2 separate regions of the Homo sapiens genome follow, and region 2 is linked to region 1. The links come from fine-mapping of genetic effects on gene expression. Tissue or cell type: whole blood. Region 1 holds a variant in brackets; the other region holds the start of a gene. All regions are shown on one strand. Distances are between the middles of the regions.

The links. PIP is the estimated chance that this variant, and not a neighbour inherited with it, causes the effect.
Region 2: it holds the start of BBS9, and the variant in region 1 is fine-mapped to the expression of BBS9 in whole blood (TOPMed, PIP above 0.99).

Annotation. Positions count from the first base shown.
Region 1 is chr7:33,150,061-33,158,060 of GRCh38, forward strand. BBS9 (Bardet-Biedl syndrome 9) reads left to right here. Exons shown (of 23, transcript NM_198428.3): 3 at 2,641-2,791; 4 at 5,578-5,642. Among named protein-coding and RNA genes, the nearest start is that of BBS9, 24 kb to the left of the region's middle. The variant T/G (reference allele first, on the strand shown) is at 3,809.
Region 2 is chr7:33,122,864-33,135,112 of GRCh38, forward strand. It overlaps BBS9 (Bardet-Biedl syndrome 9), which reads left to right and starts at 6,701. Exons shown (of 23, transcript NM_198428.3): 1 at 6,701-7,178. RefSeq lists enhancers at 6,114-6,163, 6,654-6,763 and a silencer at 6,304-6,603.

The sequences.
Region 1 (8,000 bases):
TCCTGATCAGTGCCTTTACTTTTACTTAAGAAGGCTGGAGAGATTTGTCAGGTCATTTGTTATTGTAATTTAAAACTTAAAGAATCAGTCTCTGAATGAGCTTCTCAGTGATTAAGCCCCACTATCTGAGTAGTAAGTGGTGAGAAATGTTTCTGCAGAGTACCAAAGACCCTGAGTTTTATTCTTTACCCTTAGATGACAATTTTGAGATTTAAACCTATCATTCTTTTATTTTAAATTATCCAATTTAATTTAAATAAAGCTATCTTCGATAAAGCTATCTTACATGTGGTTTGGTGTTCCTCCTTGTTCAGCTGGCTATGGCAGCAGCTGTCCAGTCTACTAGAGTTTCACCTGCAATGGGCACAGGGTCCCAGATGACTAGAGATGATAACTTGATTAATTGTTCTGTTACAATGTAAAGTGATACTTAACCCCACCTAGAACATGAATGGGAGTGTTCTGTGAAAGGGCATATACGCAAAGTGGCCCTCAAATACTGAAGGAGCTGAGAACCAAAGATTGAGGCAGACAAATCCAGTTTGTCAGTATACAGTGATTTATTAGGTGAACTTATGGGCAGAAATGTCCTGGGCAGTTGCAAGACAGGCAGCTCTCCACACCACAACCCCCAGACCCAGGGCTTGTATCTTGGGGAAAAAAAGTATACATGCTCTGAGAAGAATGTGTAGGTGGCTATGAGTGTCACAGCCTATGATGTATGCAGCAACATCAAGTGCTGTTTTGGAGGAAAGGCAAAACTTAAAATGAATAGATGTTTCTGCATAAAGAGTAATACATCAACTAGAGATCTTAGAGGAGTTCTTGGACTTGAGTTTAGTCAGGAGTCACATGGCAGATTAGCATTTAAAATAAAGTTACTCTTGTCCCCACAAGGAATCTTACTGTTTTGTACCGCATTTCAGGTCAAGAACCAATTCCCATACTTTGGAGGCCAAGGCAGGTAGATTGCTTGAGTCCAGAAGTTTGAGACCAGCCCAGACAACATGGCAAAACCACATCCCTACAAAAAATACAAAAATTAGCTGGGCATGAAGGCATATGCCTGTATTCCCAGCCACTCAGGAGGCTGAGGTGGGAGGATCAATTGAGCCTGGGAGGTTGAGGCTGCAACAAGCTGTGATTGCATCACTGTACTCAAGCCTGGGCAACAGAGTGAGACCCTGTCTCAAAGGAAAAAAAAAAAGAAGAACCAATTCCAAATATGCTTGCATGTTTGCATGCCTGCAGTTTATTTTCTAGTGCTCATTTCTATATCAGTTATCTTTTTTTTTGGCCACAAGTGACAGGAAACTGATAGATTTAAGTACAGAAGGTGCTGGAATGAATGTAAGATAGCTTTCCCAATGCAGGCAGAGTTGAACTGAACAAGCCTTTAGTGGGGACAGGAATGGGCATGGCTCCAGAGACCTTGTAAGCCTCCAGTATTGAAGTTCCCAGGATTATACCTCTCTCATAGGGTTATTATGAGGATTTTTTTTTTCTTGAGATGGAGTCTTGCTGTGTCACCCAGGCTGGAGTACAGTGGCACTGTCTCGGCTCAATGCAGCCTCCACTTCCCGGATTCCAGCGATTCTCCTGCCTCAGCCTCCTGGGTAGCTGGGATTACGGGCATGCGCCACCACACCTAGCTAATTTTTTCTATTTTTAGTAGAGATAGGGTTTCAACATGTTGGCCAGGCTGGTCTCGAACTCCTGATCTCAAGTGATCTGCCTGCCTCGGCTTCCCAAGGTGCTAGGATTACAGGCATGAGCCACTGCACCCAGCCTTTTTTTTTTTTTTTTTTTTTTTCAGTGACAAGGTCTTGTTCTTTCGCCCAGGCTAGAGTACAGTGGCACGATTAGAGCTCACTGCAGCCTTGAACTCCTTGGCTCAAGCAGTCCTTCCACCTCAGCCTCCCAAGTAGCTGGGACTACAGGGGCATGCCACTGCACTCAGCTTTGCATGCCATTCCCTCCATGTCTCTGTTCTGTCCTCTTAAAGGACACTAATTGAGTTTGATCACACATCTAATTAACTGGACCTCATTTTAACTTGATTACATGTGCAAAGACTCTGTTTCCAAATCAGGTCACATTCAGAGGTACCTGGGGTTATGACTTTAACGTATCTTTTTTTGGGGGGACACAATTTAACTTACAACACCCATTCTATCATTTCCCCTGCTTGTACTTAAGATGAAACATTGCTTATCAAGGCACTCTATCTAGTGACGACTCAGAATCCTTTTTAATACAGTGTTTTCGACAGCCACAAGCAGTTATAGAGTTGGCCTCTATGATGGAATCAGTTTACAACATTGTACTAGTCCTTTGATAAAGGGGCTTGCTTTGATTGAGTTAAATTATGACTTTGATACCAAATAAAGGTTTAGGAAAAAATGCAATATGTTAGTACATTTGACTATAGGGATGTAAAGCTATTTATGAAAGCTGTGTGTTATTAAAATAAGTACTCTTTAATTACACCTTTTTTGACAGAGTGGCCTTTGTGTATAAAGCAAGACTGAATTCTTTTAATTTTTAGATTTCTCTTTTACACATTAGAAAGCTTATTTCCTAAGAGATTTGCTAATGTTTGTTTCTCCCTCTATCTTTTTTTTTTTAAATTCTCTACAGATAAAATAATTGTGGGTAGCTTTATGGGATACCTAAGGATCTTTAGCCCCCATCCTGCAAAAACAGGAGATGGAGCTCAAGCCGAAGATTTGCTTCTAGAAGTGGATCTACGAGATCCAGTACTTCAAGTGGAAGTAGGAAAGTTTGTTTCGTAAGTAAGCCCACTAATTCTGGTATTTTACTTGGAGTATGTCAATCCTTTACAGTGTCACTTTTGTGTATTCTTCAAAGAAGACTATCCATGAATTAAATATATTTTCTGGATATTGTCACCTAGGGGTTTCTCACGTATGGAATGCTTTTTATGTGGAAACTGTACATTTAAGATATAATAATTTAGGGCCTTTTAATAGTAATAGACTTAAGATGCCTGACATTATCAGAAGCTTAAAAACAAAGAGATAAGCTTTTGAAAATAACCAAATAAAGAAATAAATAAGAAGTATCTACTTATTTAAAGTTATATAAGTGTCCATTTATAATTAGATGAAGTAGCAGATAACCATTACTTTTTGGTTCATAGCTTTGAGGTTTTAAAATGAATAGTTATTTGGGGTAGAGATGCCCTATCGTTTCTTGAAAGAAGTCAGTTCAACCCACAAAGTAAGTCTTCCCCCTACAAGAGCTTTGTTTCAAAGTACTTTATTCTTAAATCTAATTTATTTTAGAAAACTGTTTATTAGTTTGAACTTTGGGTAATATGTCTGCTTTTTATTTACTGATGATATTGCTGATCCTCTTATTTTCATACACAAACTTTCTTAAAATTAAGCTTGTATTTCTTCATCATTTAGAAGTACGATGAACACTTATCAAGTAGCCAGAGTCAGTTTGCCTCCTCTTTTTGAGCTCCCTTTTGCCTTTTTAAATCTGGGCAGTACCCTAAGCTCTGGATTTTGGCATTCTACATTTGTTTATCATAATTTATTGGCCCCAGGGGCCATTTAGTCAGGGCCCTAACTCCTGCTTGAAAACCAAACAACCACTCATGAGCATTCACATTCTTCTAGTGATATGTTTTATTCTGTTGGGAAGCTGTAGCTTAGATGCTTTAGGCTGGGATATGAGATGAGACTTTTATGCTTTGTGACAGGCTGGATTGCGGAGATTTTGTGACCGAAGTGGTTGGTAAATATCTACTCCATCTAAAAGCAGATGGTGATTAGGT[T/G]CCCATCATGTGCCTAGGACATATTAGGTGTGATGGATTTACAAAGTAAGGAGACAAAAGCATCCTTCCTGCTAAAAAGTGTTTTTACCTTACCATTAAAAAAGTGAAACACAGCCAATAATCATTCTGTATAGTAGTCCTTAAGTATAGCCCTCATCTATGTGCTCACATTGGAAGGGGAGGAAGTTAACGTTGTTAAGTAGATAGTATACTAGGCCTTTCTATGACATCATGCTCTTTTCCTGAGCATGGTGGAAAACTTGTTTTGAATGTCCAGGGTACATATACAAAATTTCCAAAGGTGATACTGATTATGTGATAGTCATGTATATTTGCATTTTCTACTAGTAGAGCAAATGATGAGTATATATTAATTGTAACAATGTTTTGCAGATGTTATCTAATAAGATTCTTATTTGTAAATAAGATACTAACACTCTGAAAGTTTAAATGATCATACATATAGTAAGGTGCAGAGTCAGAACCCCCACCTAGGTCTGCAGACTTCAATTATAGTCCTTGCAGTTTAGAACAGTCTGTTCTAAACAGGCGTTGTACACTGGAGGCCTGCTTGTACATGTGAGCCTGTTCAGTATTTTATTTTGTTTTATTTTGAGGCGGAGTTTCACTCTCGTCGCCCAGACTGGAGTGCAATGGCGTGATCTCAGCTTGCTGCAACCTCCGCCTCCCAGATTCAAGCAATTCTCCTGCCTCAGCCTCCCAAGTAGCTGGGACTACAGGCACGTGCCACCATGCCTGGCTAATTTTTGTATTTTTAGTAGAGACAGGGTTTCACCATGTTGGCCAGGCTGGTCTCGAACTTCTGATCTCAGGAGATCCACCGCCCCCTCCCACCTCAGCCTCCCAAAATGCTGGATTACAGGTGTGAGCCATTACACCTGGCCGCCTGCTCAGTATTTTAAATTTAAAAGAGCTGTCAACATTTAAGAACCAAGAGATTTCACATAAAACCCAATGCTTTCTGGCTTTTCTTGAAAAATGTGGGGCTCTGGCCCCAAGCCCAGAACCAAGTAATAGCCACCTCCTTTAGTCTGGTTCAGTCTCCAGTTAATCACAGCCATTTACACTCTTTACTCATTAACAACCCCTGGCTTGATCCTTGAAAACTGAATTTAGGATCTCTAGACTGTGCCATGCTAGTTTCTGGAAACCACTTGAGATAGGCTGGGAATTGTTGTGGTGATATTGGTAGTTTATTTCTATTTGAGATTTAGTCCAAACAGAAATATTTTCAATACTTGTAATAAAATTTCAGATATGGAAGTGATATATGCTACTTGTAATAATGATTGGTGTTTTGTGATGTTTTAACCTTTCCAAGATGGTTTCACATTATTTTATTTCATTTCATTGAACCTCTTATTTTTCATGAGAAATAGGCTCAGGGAGATTTTAGTGACTTGCCCAAAGTCACGGATGAATTAGTCAGAAAGCCAGGACTAGAACTTGGATTTCTTTATTGAAAGAAATAGCACTTAGGGAAGGACCTCAGATCTGACTTTTTCTTGGAAGCTCTGTTGGCTTCAATCTGAAGGCAGTGCCTTGAGGCAGAGTACTTGAGCCTCTGGGGTTGTCACATTGGCTGTTTATTGTTATATTTATTTTTCAGTTTAGAATGTTATCTAATGAATTGTTTTGTTTACTCACAGTGGCTGTGGTTATGAGATCTTTTTGAAATTATTTTACAACTTTTTGGTTACGTCTAAAGCTAATATTGGAAAACTTTAAAAACTTTCTCTGTTTTTCAGAGGTACCGAAATGCTACATTTGGCTGTGTTACATTCTAGAAAACTTTGTGTCTACTCTGTCTCAGGTAAGAAATATTTTTACCAATGTAGAATTTATATTACAAATTGGGCTTAATGTTATATGAGAATAGATATTCCCTAGTGCTGACTTGGTAGAGAACACAAAACATTTAGTTGAATGTTTTCTTGTCTTGGTTAACATTTTCCCATTTTTCATTTATTCTTTCAGATACTTAGGCTATTACATTTTCATGGTCTACTATTTCTGTGTATATGTATCTTTCTAGCAGAGGATTCCTCTTAATCACCTGCCTCTCCAGAATTGTTTCCGGGATTGCCTGTGACTAATAGAGGCCAATTCTGGGTACTTAAGACACTTGAGTCTTAAGAAATGTTCTACAATAACAAAATTGATTAGATGCTAAGTCATAGTGGTTTGAAGTACATTTTCTTTGGTGAACCTCAAGTATTTTCTCTTTACCGTTCCAATTTCTTGGTTTTTGGTTGTCTTCACTCAGTCAGGCTTCATCAGGTTTCATTCTCTGACATGGTTCTGTGGGTACAAGTATAGTGTGCGGTTTGGTTTTTATTAAAATTATAGTATGTGGTTTGGTTTTTATTATATTTTATTTTGGCCTTTATTAAATGTAAGATATAACTTAAAAATTTTTATTTCAATTATTAGATAAGTTTAGTTCAAGTTGAGAGTTATTTTAATGGATGTCAGTGTTGGGGGCATTTTTTTTATGGGTATGAGAAAACTAAGTGTCTGTGAGGCTGTTCCTTTTACCAGAGATCCTCTCCTTTGGAGCTTGCTGTAAATGTTACCTTCTAGGATTTGGATTTCTCAGACTTATTCTCTTCATTTGGGCTTTCTTTGTATTTTGCTTTCAATTTGAGTAATGATGCATATTTACTGACTGAGTTGGATATTCTTAGGCAGTCTCTTTTCAGGGTGAAGATCTTTTAGATTTCCAAGGCAGGCTTGGTAACCTGGCGTGGTATATGGTAGACATCCAGTAAATACTTGTTGAATGAATGAATGAACAAATTTCTGGGTAGTGCTGAGGCAATTGACAGTGGCTTTCTTTATTACTCTTCACCATGTTCTGTTTTCGTCCCCTTCTCTGTTACCACTATCATTTTATTTCCCACTCTGTTTATGTCAGAGGCCTGATAAAGTGTGCTCTCATTGATTTTATGGTAAAGGACATGGTTTCATGTTGCTCCTCCTAGTGTCAGGGCATTTATTTAGTATGCCAGAGTAAATGGAGAAGGTATTATCATACGATATAGGCTACTTTATTGCATGGATCTAGTTGTTCTTCTGTTTTTGACCGTAAGCCTGTTATTTTACTAAGTGGGTTACACAAGCCATGGAGGAGAATTTGCCTACAGTTATAGTTACCCAGAATACTTCTTTGGCAATTAGTTCCTTCTGAAGCTCCATGGGGGCTCTAAGCAGGGCAGAGAGGAGGGTATCTTAGAAGCTAGAAATTCGATTAGACACTAGGCCTTCCCTGGTCCTGCTCGAACTATGGGCCAAAAAGACAGATGCCTCTGGAGTTCCACTGGGGCTTAGAGCACAGACAAGGGATAAAAAGTGTACTTATCAGAAAAACGTACTGAAAGAAACTGGCATATTAGGTGACAATTTGTTTATGGCATATTGATATCCTTCAAGTAAGTGTTGAAAATGAAAGTTATTTGCTATGGGAATGGTGATTTTATAGCTCTTTTATTCTTTGTGTTCATTTAAAAGCTTTGTATTCTCTGGGGACTAGGAGTTGTCCAAACTACATTCTCTTAGGCCCCACCTCACTTCCCTTCTGTCTTTCATTTCTTCAGCCTCTTGTGATGTGGGCTGACAATTTGTATATTTTTCCTGGCTTGGGCTTAAATTGAGAAGCATGGGAATGTTTTTGTTCTCTTGAATATGTTTCTTGAAGTTCCAGATTGAACTTTTACCTAGCTTTTACTGTCACAGGGGAAGCACAAACATTTTCTAATTTAAGTGAAACCACTAGTGTCAGCAGACAAACGTGTGAGCTGAACTTGACATCCTTTTCTTCAACTGCTCCCTTCTCAAATATTTTCAAACTAGAGGAGCCTTTCTAAGGTCAGTCTCCTGGACATACCTAACAACCCTTAATAGTCAGAGGCTATTTTGCTAACTTCTTTTTGGTGGGTTATGTGTCATCAAATGTATGCTTAATATAGAGAAAAAAACAGGGTCTTGCTGACCTGAAGTTGGCCTATCTTATCATACTCTGGTAAAGAGAAAGCATCACATGGCATCTCAGATTTCTTTCTGATGGGCTTCAGTTTCTGAATAAATGGTTACAGATGTGTGAGTGTGAGCCGTACTGATTATGTTGTTTTAAATATTATTTTCCAAAAGATGTGTACTTCTCAAGAGGCAT
Region 2 (12,249 bases), 25 kb before region 1:
AAGTCTCAGAGTATCACCGAAGGCCCTCAATGTAGTACATGTGTATTACTGCTGGTTGTTTAGTGCCCAAGGGCTCTTCAGTTAGCAGGTGATGAATCCTGCCAGAACTAGGTCCTTCCCTTCAAGGCAGCAGGTTCCCTACTGGCCCACGTTGTGTGTAGAAACACCATCTGGGAACTAGGGCCTGAAATGGGGGGTGGCCTCATGACTCTGACCAGTGCCTTATCCTGCTGTGACTGAGCTAGTATACAGGGTGCAAGACAAAGTCCTCCCCATCCTTCCCTCTCCTCTCCTAAAGTGGAAGGAAGGAGTCTCTTTTGAAGCCACAAGCTGTGCAGCCTGGACTAGGTGAGAGTTGATGCCAGCACTCCCACAACTGCCCTGGCTGGTGTCTCAGTAGGCCATGTGCCCCCTGAGTCCACTGGCTCTGGGCCCATTTCAGCCCTAGGACTCACCTAGGAGTTGTGGTCCTTGTGGCCTAGACTGCCTTTCAAGTTTACTTACAGCCCCAAAGTACTTTAGATCATTGTCATGATACTTGAGGGAACTCAACTTCTGACTGCTGGGATTGGTGATTTCCTGTTGGCTAGGGCTGCTTTAAGTATTTTCTCCACGGGCAGGTGTCAGCTGAGTTTTGTCCAGTTTTCCTTTCTGCTATAACAGGGCAGCACTGAGTTCAGCGCCTTAAATTTGCTGCATTCCCCCTTCCCCAGTGCACAGAAATGCTCTTTACACCATGCAACCATTGCTGGGGAGTGTGGGAGGAGTGGTGTTGGCAATTCAAGACTTTTTTCTACTTCTTCTGTGCCTCTTTCAGCAATATTAAGTTAAAACCAGGTACTGGCTGGGTGTGGTGCTCACGCCTGTAATCTCAGCACTTTGGGAGGCCAAGGTGGGAGGATCACTTGAGTTCAGGAGTTTGAGACCAGCCTGGCCAACATGGTGAAACCTCGTCTCTACCAAAAATACAAAAAATTAGTGGGGCGTGGTGGCATGTGCCTGTAATTCCAGCTACTCAGGAGACTGAGGCAGGAGAGTCGCTTCAACCTGGGAGATGAATGTAGCAGTGAGCCTAGCTTGTGCCACTGCACTCCAGCCTGGGTGACAGAGTGAGACTCTGTCTCAAAAACAAAACAAAACAAAAACAAAACCAGGTACTGTGACTGTTCACCTGATTTTGCTTCTCGTGAAGGTGCTTTTTTCTGTGTAGGGAGTTTTAAATTGCTGTCCTTGTTGGGGGATGCTTGGTGCAGGCTTCTATTTTGCCATCTTGCTCCACCTCTCATCTGAGTTTATATAATTTACTATGTCATGATTAAAAATCTAAAATAAAAGCTATAAGAACTTTATTTCTACTTATGGAAACATGTTTAAATGTGTTTATGCATGTCTACATGTGTTATGTGGTGTGTTTACATAATAAAGTCTGTCATAGCCAAAAATCCATGAACATTTTATTAAGTGAGAAAAATGAGGGCTCATATAAAATATATAGCAAATAACCCTCCCTTTTTAGTTTATGTGACTTAACTAAATATTTCATTAATTAATTTGTTTTAAAATTGTCAACATACATTTTTGCCTAGGTTTACTGGTCAGATCTTTTTTTTGAGAAGGAGTCTCGCTCTTTCACCCAGGCTGGAGTGCAGTGGCGCAATCTCGGCTGACTGCAGGCTCTGCCCCCCAGGGTTCACGCCATTCTCCTGCCTCAGCCTCCCTTGTAGCTGGGACTACAGGCGCCCGCCACCTAGCCCGGCTAATTTTTTGTGTTTTTAGTAGAGAGGCGGTTTCACCGTGTTAGCCAGGATGGTCTCGATCTCCTGACCTTGTGATCCGCCCGCCTCGGCCTCCCAAAATGCTGGGATTACAGGCGTGAGCCACCGTGCCCGGCCTGGTCAGATCATTTTATATTTGTTTTTGCTAGACGTTTTAAGGTCATGATGCTATAAACCCAGTCTAAAACAGAATGACCTTGTTGTGAAATTCCTTAATATATAAGATTAATTTAATGTTGTTGATATACTTAAAACAGCTATATCTTCTGAGTTATCAACAGGATACCCATGTATTTAACTTTAAAGTTTTTACTTAGATAAATACTTGATATTAACAGATATGAAACTTGTTAATAAACACAACAATGACTAGCTTTGTCTTATATTTCAGTTTTAAGAAGTAATCTAGATGTAATTGATAAAAAATAAATTAGTTAATTGTAAATAGAATAAATATTTATAAATAAAATTTTTATGTAATTTAAAATCCTGAAGTTATATTATGTTAAATAGTAGATACGATGTCTGGATCACATCCAAATAAGATAAAAATGGAAACAAACCACTGAATAAATATAAGTTCATTTTTGGCTTTTTAAAGTTTATAAAATTATAAATATATTTATATCTATTAATCAAAAATGAATTTAGGAAAAAATACTTTTGTATGATAAATAATCTTGAATAGTAAATTTTAGTCCTATAAAATAATTGGCTTTTTTAAAAAATGAAAAATGGTAGGACAAAGACTTGGGGGTTAAAAAAATGAGAAAATGTCTAAGCAAGTCAAAGAGCATTTATGAATAATAGGCCTGTGAGAAAACTTTTATGAATGATCAGGTTGGCCAGAATTAAAAATAAATAGTTTATAAGTGGTTTTCTAAAATTTAAACATTAATGTTGGAGGTGCACTGATACAGGACCAGAGCCTGGTCCTCCATTTTTAAAACAACATTTTCTTGAAGTATTGATCTGCTCCTGATAAAATTGTAAGAAGCTTTCATTTTGAATTCTAAAATCTATTTCTTTAACTGCTATCCCCTAAACTGCAGGCAGTTTCTATTTCTGCCACCTTTTTTCACTGAGATTCATTTAATTTCCCTAGTTTCACATTAAAAATGCTGTCTTCTTCATTTAAAATAATAATTTCTTTGCTTTTTTTTTTGAGATAGGGTTTCACTCTGTCATGCAGGCTGGAGTGTAGTTGCACGATCATGGCTCACTGCAGTCTTGACCTACTGGGCTCAAGCAGTCCTCCAACTTCAGCCCCCTTAGTAGCTGAGATTAAAGGCACACGTAACCACGCCCGGCTAATTTTTGTATTTTTTGTAGAGACAGGATTTTGTCATGTTGCCCAGGCTGGTCTCGAACTCCTGGGCTCAAACGATCTGCCCACCTCGGCCTCCCAAAGTGCTTGGATTATGGACATTGCACCCGTCTGGTAATATCATTTCTTGAGGTAGAGTTTTGCTTTTGAAATTTCTCAGATTTCGTATCTCAGTGGTTCAAATTTGCCATGTCTTGCTATTTGATTTCCAGGTCATATATCATTGCATTCAGGTTTTCTCCTCTTTAGAAAGCCTGGGATGGTAACTCTCTCCTTCAATTTTTTCATCAGTTGCTATACAATTTTTTTTTTTTGGTTCTAATTGCTGGTATGGCCTGACACTAAAGGTTTATCCTGAAGGCCTAGAAATCAATGCTCTTTTTCAATATAACTTGATTCTGTACTCTTGGCTTTTCTTGATACATGTGAATTGTTATAATCATGACCTGGGACACATCTTCCTGTATCTGATTAAATTCAAGTACCCTTTTCATCAGATTCGACCTCCAGGTTATCTAAATGAGCTCCCCAAAAGGAGAAACAATCACATTGCAGAAAGTTTTTCTTTACTTTTTTGGTACCTGGCCTAAGGAAGATTATACATTTTATCAACATAATTTCCTGTGTTGCTTTTATTAGATTTGATTTTTTTTTAACCTGAAGTTTAAAATGGTTAAGATAGTTTTAATGTAATTATTTGTATGGCTTTTTAAGCCTTTTGATTATCACTCTGGTTATATAAATGACTTATTTCACAAGTAACTTGTGATTCTGTATTGATACAGTGTTTTGAGCCCTTTAAAAACTTCCTCAAAATCAAATTCCAATTTAAGTTTTTTAAATGTAGAATTAACTTTGGAATTTTCCAGTTGGACTCCTGGAAAGCATTAAAACATATCTTTCTCATCTTTTAGAGGTATTAAATGATTTGGGTTATTTGGTAAATTTTATAAGAAATATTGTCAAACGATAACTGATACTAGATTTTTCTTTTATTTGCATTTATGGGAATATTGTTTATATGAATGTTTGAAAAATTATATAAGTCCATACAAGTATGCTGGGAATGATGGCTCATGCCTATAATCCCAACACTTTGGGAGGCTGAGGTCAGAGGATTACTTATAGCCAGGAATTTGTGTCCAGCTTGGGCAACAAAACAAGACCCTGTCTCTATTAAAACAAAACAAAACAAAACAAAAACAAAAAAAACCAAAAAAAAACCAAGCATGGTGGTACAAACGTGTAGTCCCAGCTACTTGAGAGGCTGAGGCAGAAGGATTGCTTGAGTCCAGGAGTTTGAGATTGCAGTCAGCTATGAATGTGCCACTGCACTCTAGCCTGGGCAATAGAGCAAGACCCCATCTTTAAAAAAAATTCGTACAAATGTATTATATTACCAGTCATAATTCTGGTTATCTTAAAATACTGTATATAATAGCAATAAATAAATGTTCTTCTCAGTTGTTAACTTCATCAGATTTTTAACCATGGCTATTTTAAGTTTTTGTCATCCATATTATTGTTTTGAATTCTTTTTTAAAAAACAGACTCCTGGAAAATATTCTAACAAGTACTCTTTTATTTTTATTTATTTATTTTTGAGACAATCTTGCTCTGATGCCCAGGCTGGGGTGCAGTGGCACGATCCTGGTTCATTGCAACCTCTGCCTCCCTGGTTCCAGTGATTCTCATGCCTCAGCCTCCTGAGTAGCTGGGATTACAGGCATGCGCTACCACGCTGGGTTAATTTTTTGTATTTTTAGTAGAGATGGGGTTTCACTATATTGGCCAGGCTTTTCTCCAACTCCTGGCCTCAAATGATCCTCCCGCCTTGGCCTCCCAAATTGCTGGGATTACCGGCATGAACCATTGTGCCTGGCCCTAAAATATACTCTTAGATTTGGGTTTCTAACAACTTGAAGATCAATGGACAATATAACAATTTCCAGAACTGTAATAAAAAAGTGGGTTCATGAAACTATTAATCAAGATCAGGCAGAACAAGAATTAATTACGTGAGTTTAACTAATGAAGACAATGTTTTTATGATATTATTTCAAATGTTGTTGGTTCTTTACTCAAATAGTTTTTTCCAGATTTAAGAAAATCTTGTCTTTTAAGCTATTTATAATTTACAGCAATTTGATAGAGTATACTTGTGTAAAAAAAGATAAAAACTTTTTTTCTCTTTACTTGATTCCTCCATAATTAGAAAACCATTTGTGAGTCTTCTTATGGTAATATGGTCATTTCAATAAGTCTAATAAAAATCTGCTCTCTCTGTATAGCAGAATACAATTGGAAACTGGTTATATTACCAAGGCTTTGACTGAAAGGTCATTTTTAAAAATATTGAGGCCGGACGCGGTGGCTCACGCCAGCAATCCCAGCACTTTGGGGGACTGAGGTGGGTGGATCGTTTGAACCCAGGAGTTCGAGAGCAACCTGGACATGGCGAAACTCCATCTCTACAAAAAATACAAAAATTAGCCAGGTGTGGTGGTCTGTGCCTGTAGTCCCAGCTTACTAGGAAGGCTAAGGTGGGAGAATCGTTTGAGCCCGGGAGGCTGAGGCTTCAGTGCTTCAGTGAGCAGTGATCCTGTCACTGCACTCCAGTCTAGGCGACCCTGTCAGGGAGACCCAGTCTCAGTTAAAAAAAAAAAAAAAACCCAAAACCCAAAAAACTAAAACTAGAATGGTATTTTCTACTGGGAATGTGGATTTGTGGATTGATGGTGAAATACTGGAAATTTAAAGCCTACACTAGAATCCATTGAAAAAAGCAAACAAGAAAAACTTCAAGGTTGGCTACATTGAATTTGAATGTAAAGATTAAAAAAAAATAAGTAAAAAACAAAAGAAGACATAGATCCAATCCCATATACCAGGAAATGCACTCTAAGGTATATACGGAAAATATATTTAACACATGTGTATCAGGACGCAGGCACAAGTAACTTCAAAGCAGCGCTGTTTCAAATAGTAAAAAAAGGAAAAACTGGAAACTGTTCAAAAGCTTCATCATCTCGATGATCTTGGTCTTCCGCCTCGCCTTCTTCTCCAAGGTGAATATGTACTGGGCCAGCACCACCCCCGCCACCAGGGCGCACACGCTGGCGCTCGCTACCGCGACCACCCTCGCCACGGTCGCGCGGTGCATGGACGGGGCCCTCATGAGTGTCCCGGCAGGAAAAAAACACCGCGATTGGGACTCTCAGAAGCGCAGGATCCCAGAGCACCATGGACAAGCCAGTGACGCCCCGCCCCCACTAGGCCCCACCCACACGCACCGAGGGGAGAGGGCGGTCACGCGGCCGGGGGGGCGTGGCCTGCCCCCGGAGCCCAGGCAGGAGGAGGGTCTTCCTTAAGGAACTGCTGCCAGGACAGGGCAGAGGATTGCAGTAATTATCACTCTCTGCTAATGAGGACCAGGCCGTGGTTCACTCGAGCCCCGCCCCAGTAGCAATCTAATTCCAACCGCGGCCCTCTCAGAAGTCGGTCCCCGCCTTTGCGCCTCAGCCTCTCTGGACTCCAGCCCCCAGAAGTCGGCGCGGCACGGCGTGACCTGCGCAGTGGCGTCCGTTGTAAGTGCTATGACAACAGGGCGAAGATGGCTCAGAGTTAGGCTGGAGAGGGGAGGTGTCCCTTCCGCTGCGGCCGTCGGGTTTCTGCTACATCCCATTCACCGCCTCCTCCATCCTTTCCTCCTCGGTGTGAGCAGCAGGACTTGCATTTGTTCTCGCCTGCCTAGTGTCTTCCAAGGGATAGATGCCGTTTCCTCTGCTGGTCTCTGGGGGTGACGGGGGGCGCAGGGGAGCTTCTTGGGGGAATCACTCCAACTCTGTGGAGCTGGTGGTGCTGCCTGGTGGGGCTCTCTCTTTGCCCGGGACGTGGAACAACTTTCAGCTGGAGGACGAGAGGGAATAGTGAAGCTAAAGGTTGCTTTTCTCTGCACCGTCCGTTCTTGCTCCCTCTGCTCCATCACTGGGACCTTGTCAGGCGTTCATAAAGCAAAATTTGCCGAACGAGGGTTCGCAGAAAGGTGGGGCAGAGCTCATCTGACGTGGCATCAGGTAAGATGGTATGTCTGTTGTTAAACTTCGGGTACATGAATACCCTTTCCATGTTTTATTTTGTGAACAAGATTCTCTAATGCAGTATAATGGTTTGGAGTCTGTAAGGTGATTGATTTCTTAGATGTTTGCACTGAAATAAACAAACACTAGGAGCACAAAGTGTATGAGATTCTGTGAGTACTTTTGAGAAAAAAGGGATGAGAATTTTTAAGGATTCCATTGAGGAATGTCACTTGGAGCATGAGCATCCTCCTGAGACACTTCAACAGGTCTGTGAGTAAATGGGCAAAGCAGTTCCCAGCCTACGACTGAAGTAGGATGCATGTACTAATACCCCCAATCCTTCTAGTAATAGGATTATTGTTTCTCCTCTTGTTACTTGGAGACCACAACAGTTTAGATGAGCTGCGCTGATTTTATCAGCACCTCCTGCCAGTCAAATCCTGCCTTTGACTTCAATTTCCTGGAGAAATGTATTTTTTTGGGTATCTCACTTTTACTTTAAAAATGAAACCGTATCTTACAGGTATACACATCTTACATGTCCTCATTGATAAACAACTTGAAAGATGCTGCAGGATAAGCTATGGGTCTTAAGTTGGCCAGCATTCAGAGAAAGATTTTCTAACTTATTAGCATTTTATAAAGAAAACAATTACTGAGATTTTTTTCATGAATATACGGAAGAATTAAAAAAAAAACTAGAAAACCCAGAAGTTTTTAAAGAAGAATTTTAAAAAACTTTATTTTGAAAATAAGTTACAAGTTATTTGTCAGAGTTTAAGGGATTTTTCCTTGTGTGTAATTGTCGTGGTTAAATTACAACTATACACTTATATTTATGGTACAACTTCTTGATAGAAATGCTCACTGAAGGGAAAAAATCCAACAGCAATAGTATATATAGTAATTTTAAAACTTTTACACCTTTTGAGGGATGTAGTAAGTCTTACGCTTTAGAATACTTTGAAATATTTTTGAAAATTATTAAAATACATGAAATTATTATAAAACATCCCTGCTGGTTAATAACATTTCCATTAGTGATTACTATCAGTCTTTGTGAGTCCCATTTAAAATTTCGGTCCAGAGGGTGAGTTTGGCATTCGTAATTGTGTCTTGCACAGAACACACTACCACCGTCTCTTTCAACTACCACTACTACCACTGTCTCTCCTACTAGCACTGTTTCTACTGTTGGGTTATTACTGACATCTATTGAGTACTTGCTATGGGTTGAGCCATTTTATCCTCCTCCACCCTAGAACAATTGAGATACTAGAGGATAAGGGACTTGTTTAAGATCATGTAGTGTAACGTGGTCAGAAAGTGCACCCAGAGCTGTCCTACTCCAAATTTTGTGTTATTTTGCCCTTTGAGTCTTTTGTTGAAAATTCCAACAGTGAGCCCTTGTATTATTGCCTTCAAAAGCAGTATACTTCTTTTGAACACTACATGCATTTGTCATCTTTCTTTGACTGGAAGACCTGATTTCTACTTTCTTAAATTTGGTGTGACACTGGCATAACCTGGAGAAAGCAAAGCTCTGAAAATGAACAACAGCTGCAAGGTCTGTTTCCAGAACTGACCTTCAAACCTGTATGTTTTTTCCACAGCATTCTTTGGGGTTATTGTTTTCACAGCTGATCATATTGTAGGACTAGGTCAATGAGGTGTTCAAGACCAGCCTGGGCAACATAGTGAGACCTCGTCTTTGCCGAGCATGGCAGAAAAAATAAAAATTATTAAAACTTTTTAAAATATTAAAAAAAGAACAATAGCAAATTAAATTCAGAAGGTCAGCAAAAAAAGGTCAGCCACCTCTTAAATGAAACCTAAATCTGAGTAAACTTGTTGTAGAAAAAAAAGTATTCAAAACAAAAAAGTGTCAAGTGAAGAGTATAGAAGAGAATTTCTGGAGTTTAGGGGATAAGGAGATTATCTCCCATTTATTATTCTAATAAGGCATTAGAAACTAATCTGTTATGCCTGTTTATAGGACTGCACCTGTTACAACCTTCAAATTATTGTCTTCTAATCATCCTTTAACAATTTAATCAAATTTATGACATACTTGCCTGTAGTTTGAACTTGTAGTGTTTAGAATTAGTGTGAATAGAGCTATTGCTTTTATAGTCTACATGGAGGGGCGTGTGCATAGGCCGTTTGTTTAGGGTTCTGGAGTAGACAGTCTGGGTTTAGGTACCGCACATCACTTAACTAGTGAGACCACTGGCACGGATTTCTTAACTTCTCTGTATTCAAGGATACCTGAATAATAGTATCTACAATTTACTTTGTAGTTTTGTTATGAATATCAAAATAGAATGCTTGCAAAGCATTTAGAATCCTGACTGGCTTTAGTAAATGATTAGTAGATACTTTCCTTTAAGGCGAAGTCATTAAAAACCTGGTTTTTATTTTCCAATTACTTAAAGACAAATCAGTGAGCAACTGGAAATCAACACTGAATGAAAAGGGGATAAAATGCAAACCTCGGTTCCTTATTCAAGACAGTTAACTAAACTGAATTAAAAAAACATTGTATACATATTTTATTTTTTGTTATTTAAAACACTTTTTGTTTATTTTGTAACCCAAAAGCCAGGTTTCATGACCAAAAAATGTTTTATTACTATTGTTCCTTACCATCTTTCCTAACCTGTCAGTACCAGACCTCCCACACCTACCTGCTTATCTTAATATCTCAATGTCAAGGCCTATATCTTTCCTAGATTGGAATACAGATTAGCATTTTATTTGTGTCTCAATTTATGGCTAATTTTTCATTTTCTTGATGACTTGGGATGTCTTCCAGGAGAAAGGGCAGAATTTATTTTGCTGACCTTCTGAATTTAATTTGCTATTGTTCTTTTTTTAATATTTAAAAAAGTTGTAATAATTTTTATTTTTTCTGCCATGCTTGGCAAAGATGAGGTCTCACTATGTTGCGCAGGCTGGTCCTGAACTCCTTAGCTCAAGTGATCAATCCGCCTTGGCCTCCCAAAGTGCTGGGATTACAGGTGTGTGCCACCACACCTGGCCTAATGGTAAATGTGGCCAAAATACAGGAGTGTTCTGCTTTAAAAAAAAATGAAAGTTTATGGGGAATTTGAAGCATAACCAAAAGCATGAAGAATAACAAAATGAACCCCCATGTATCCATCATCATTTGTTATCTTTAAAAAAAAACAGCTTTGTTGAAATACAATTCAAATACCATACAATTCACCCATTTAACACATAAAATTCAGTTCCTTTTTTGTATATTCACAGATACATGTAACCATTACCACAGCCAAGTTTGGAATATTTTTATCAACTCAAAAAGAAACCTCGCATCCCTTAGCTATAACTCTCCTTCTCTCTTCCTTCTCCCCTACCCCCAGACCTAAGCAACTAAGAATCTACTTTCTGTCTTTATGAATTTGCCTATCCTGGATATTTTATATAAACAGAATCATATAATAGGTGGCCTTTTGTTACTGGCTTCTTTAACTTAGCATGTTTTTAAGAGCCAGATATGTCTGATTCTAAAACCTATATGCTTTTATTTATTTATGTTGTAACATATATCAGTATTTTGTTCTTTTCTTTTTTATGGCCAAATAATATTCCACTGTATGGATGCTTCCTTTTGTTTATATATTCATCAGCTGATGGACATTTGGGTTGTTTCCAAATTTTAGATATTATGAATAATGCTACTATAAACATTTATGTGTAAGTTTTTTTGTATGCACATATGTTTTCATTGCCCTTGGATAGATACTTCAGTGTCAGATTGCTGGGTCATATGGTAATTCTGTGTTTAAGTGTTAGAGGAACTTCTAGATTCCTTTCCAAAGTGGTTGCATCGTTTTGCATTCTCACTAGCAGTATATGAGGGCTCTGATTTCTTTACATCCTCACCAATGCTTATTACTATCTGACTTCGATTCTGTCATAGTAGGTGTGAAGTCATATCTCATAGTTTTGATTTGTGTTTCCCTAATGACTAATTATGCTGAGCATTTTTTTTTTGAAACGGAGTTTTGCTCTTGTTCCCTAGGCTGGAGTGCAATGGTGTGGTTTTGGCCCACTGCAACCCCTGCCTCCAGGTTCAAGCAATTCTCCTGCCTCAGCCTCCCAAGTAATTGGGCTTACAGGCACCTGCCATCACGCCTGGCTATTTTTTTTTTTTTTTTTTTTTGTATTTTTAGTGGAGATGGGGTTTCACCATGTTGGCCAGGCTGGTCTCGAACTTCTGGCCTCAGGTGATCCACCCACCTTGGCCTCCCAACGTGCTGGGATTACAGGCGTGAGCCACTGCGCCTGGCCTTGAGCATCTTTTTATGTTCTTATTGGCCATTTGTATATCTTACTTGGAAAAATACCTATTCAGACCCATTGTTCATTTTTAATTGACTTTTTTAAATTACTGAGTTGTATGAGTTCTTGTATATTATCAGATACATGATTTGCAAATATTTTCTCCCATCATTTCATCTTCTTGATGGTGACCTTTGAAACCTAAAAGTTTTTAGTTTTGATAAAGTCTACTTTATTCATTTATTTTGTTTTTTTGAGATAGAGTCTCACTCTGCTGCCCAAGCTGAGAGGTGTGGTGGCATGATTTTAGCTCACAGCAACCTCAAACTCTTGGGCTCAATCCTCAAACTCCTGCCTCAGCCTCTCAAGTAGCTGGGATTATAGGCACACACAACCATGCCCAGCTTATTTTTTCTTTTTTGTATAGATGCGGTCTCGCTTTGTTGCCCAGGCTCTTCTCAATCTCTCAGGCTTAAGCAGTTTCCTTGCCTCAGCCTCCCAAAGTGTTGGGATTACAGGCGTCAGCCACTGCACCTGGCTTTATTTATTTATTTTGAGACAGGGTCTTGCTCTGTCATCCAGGCTGGAGTGCAGTGGTGCAATCATGGCTCTCTGTAGCCTCAGCCTTCCAGTGTCAAGCAATTCTCCCACCTTAGCCTCCCCAGTAGCTGGGACTACAGGCACACACCACTGCACCTGGCTAATTTTTATATTTTTTGTAGTGATGGGGTCTCATCATGTTGCACAGGCTGGGCTC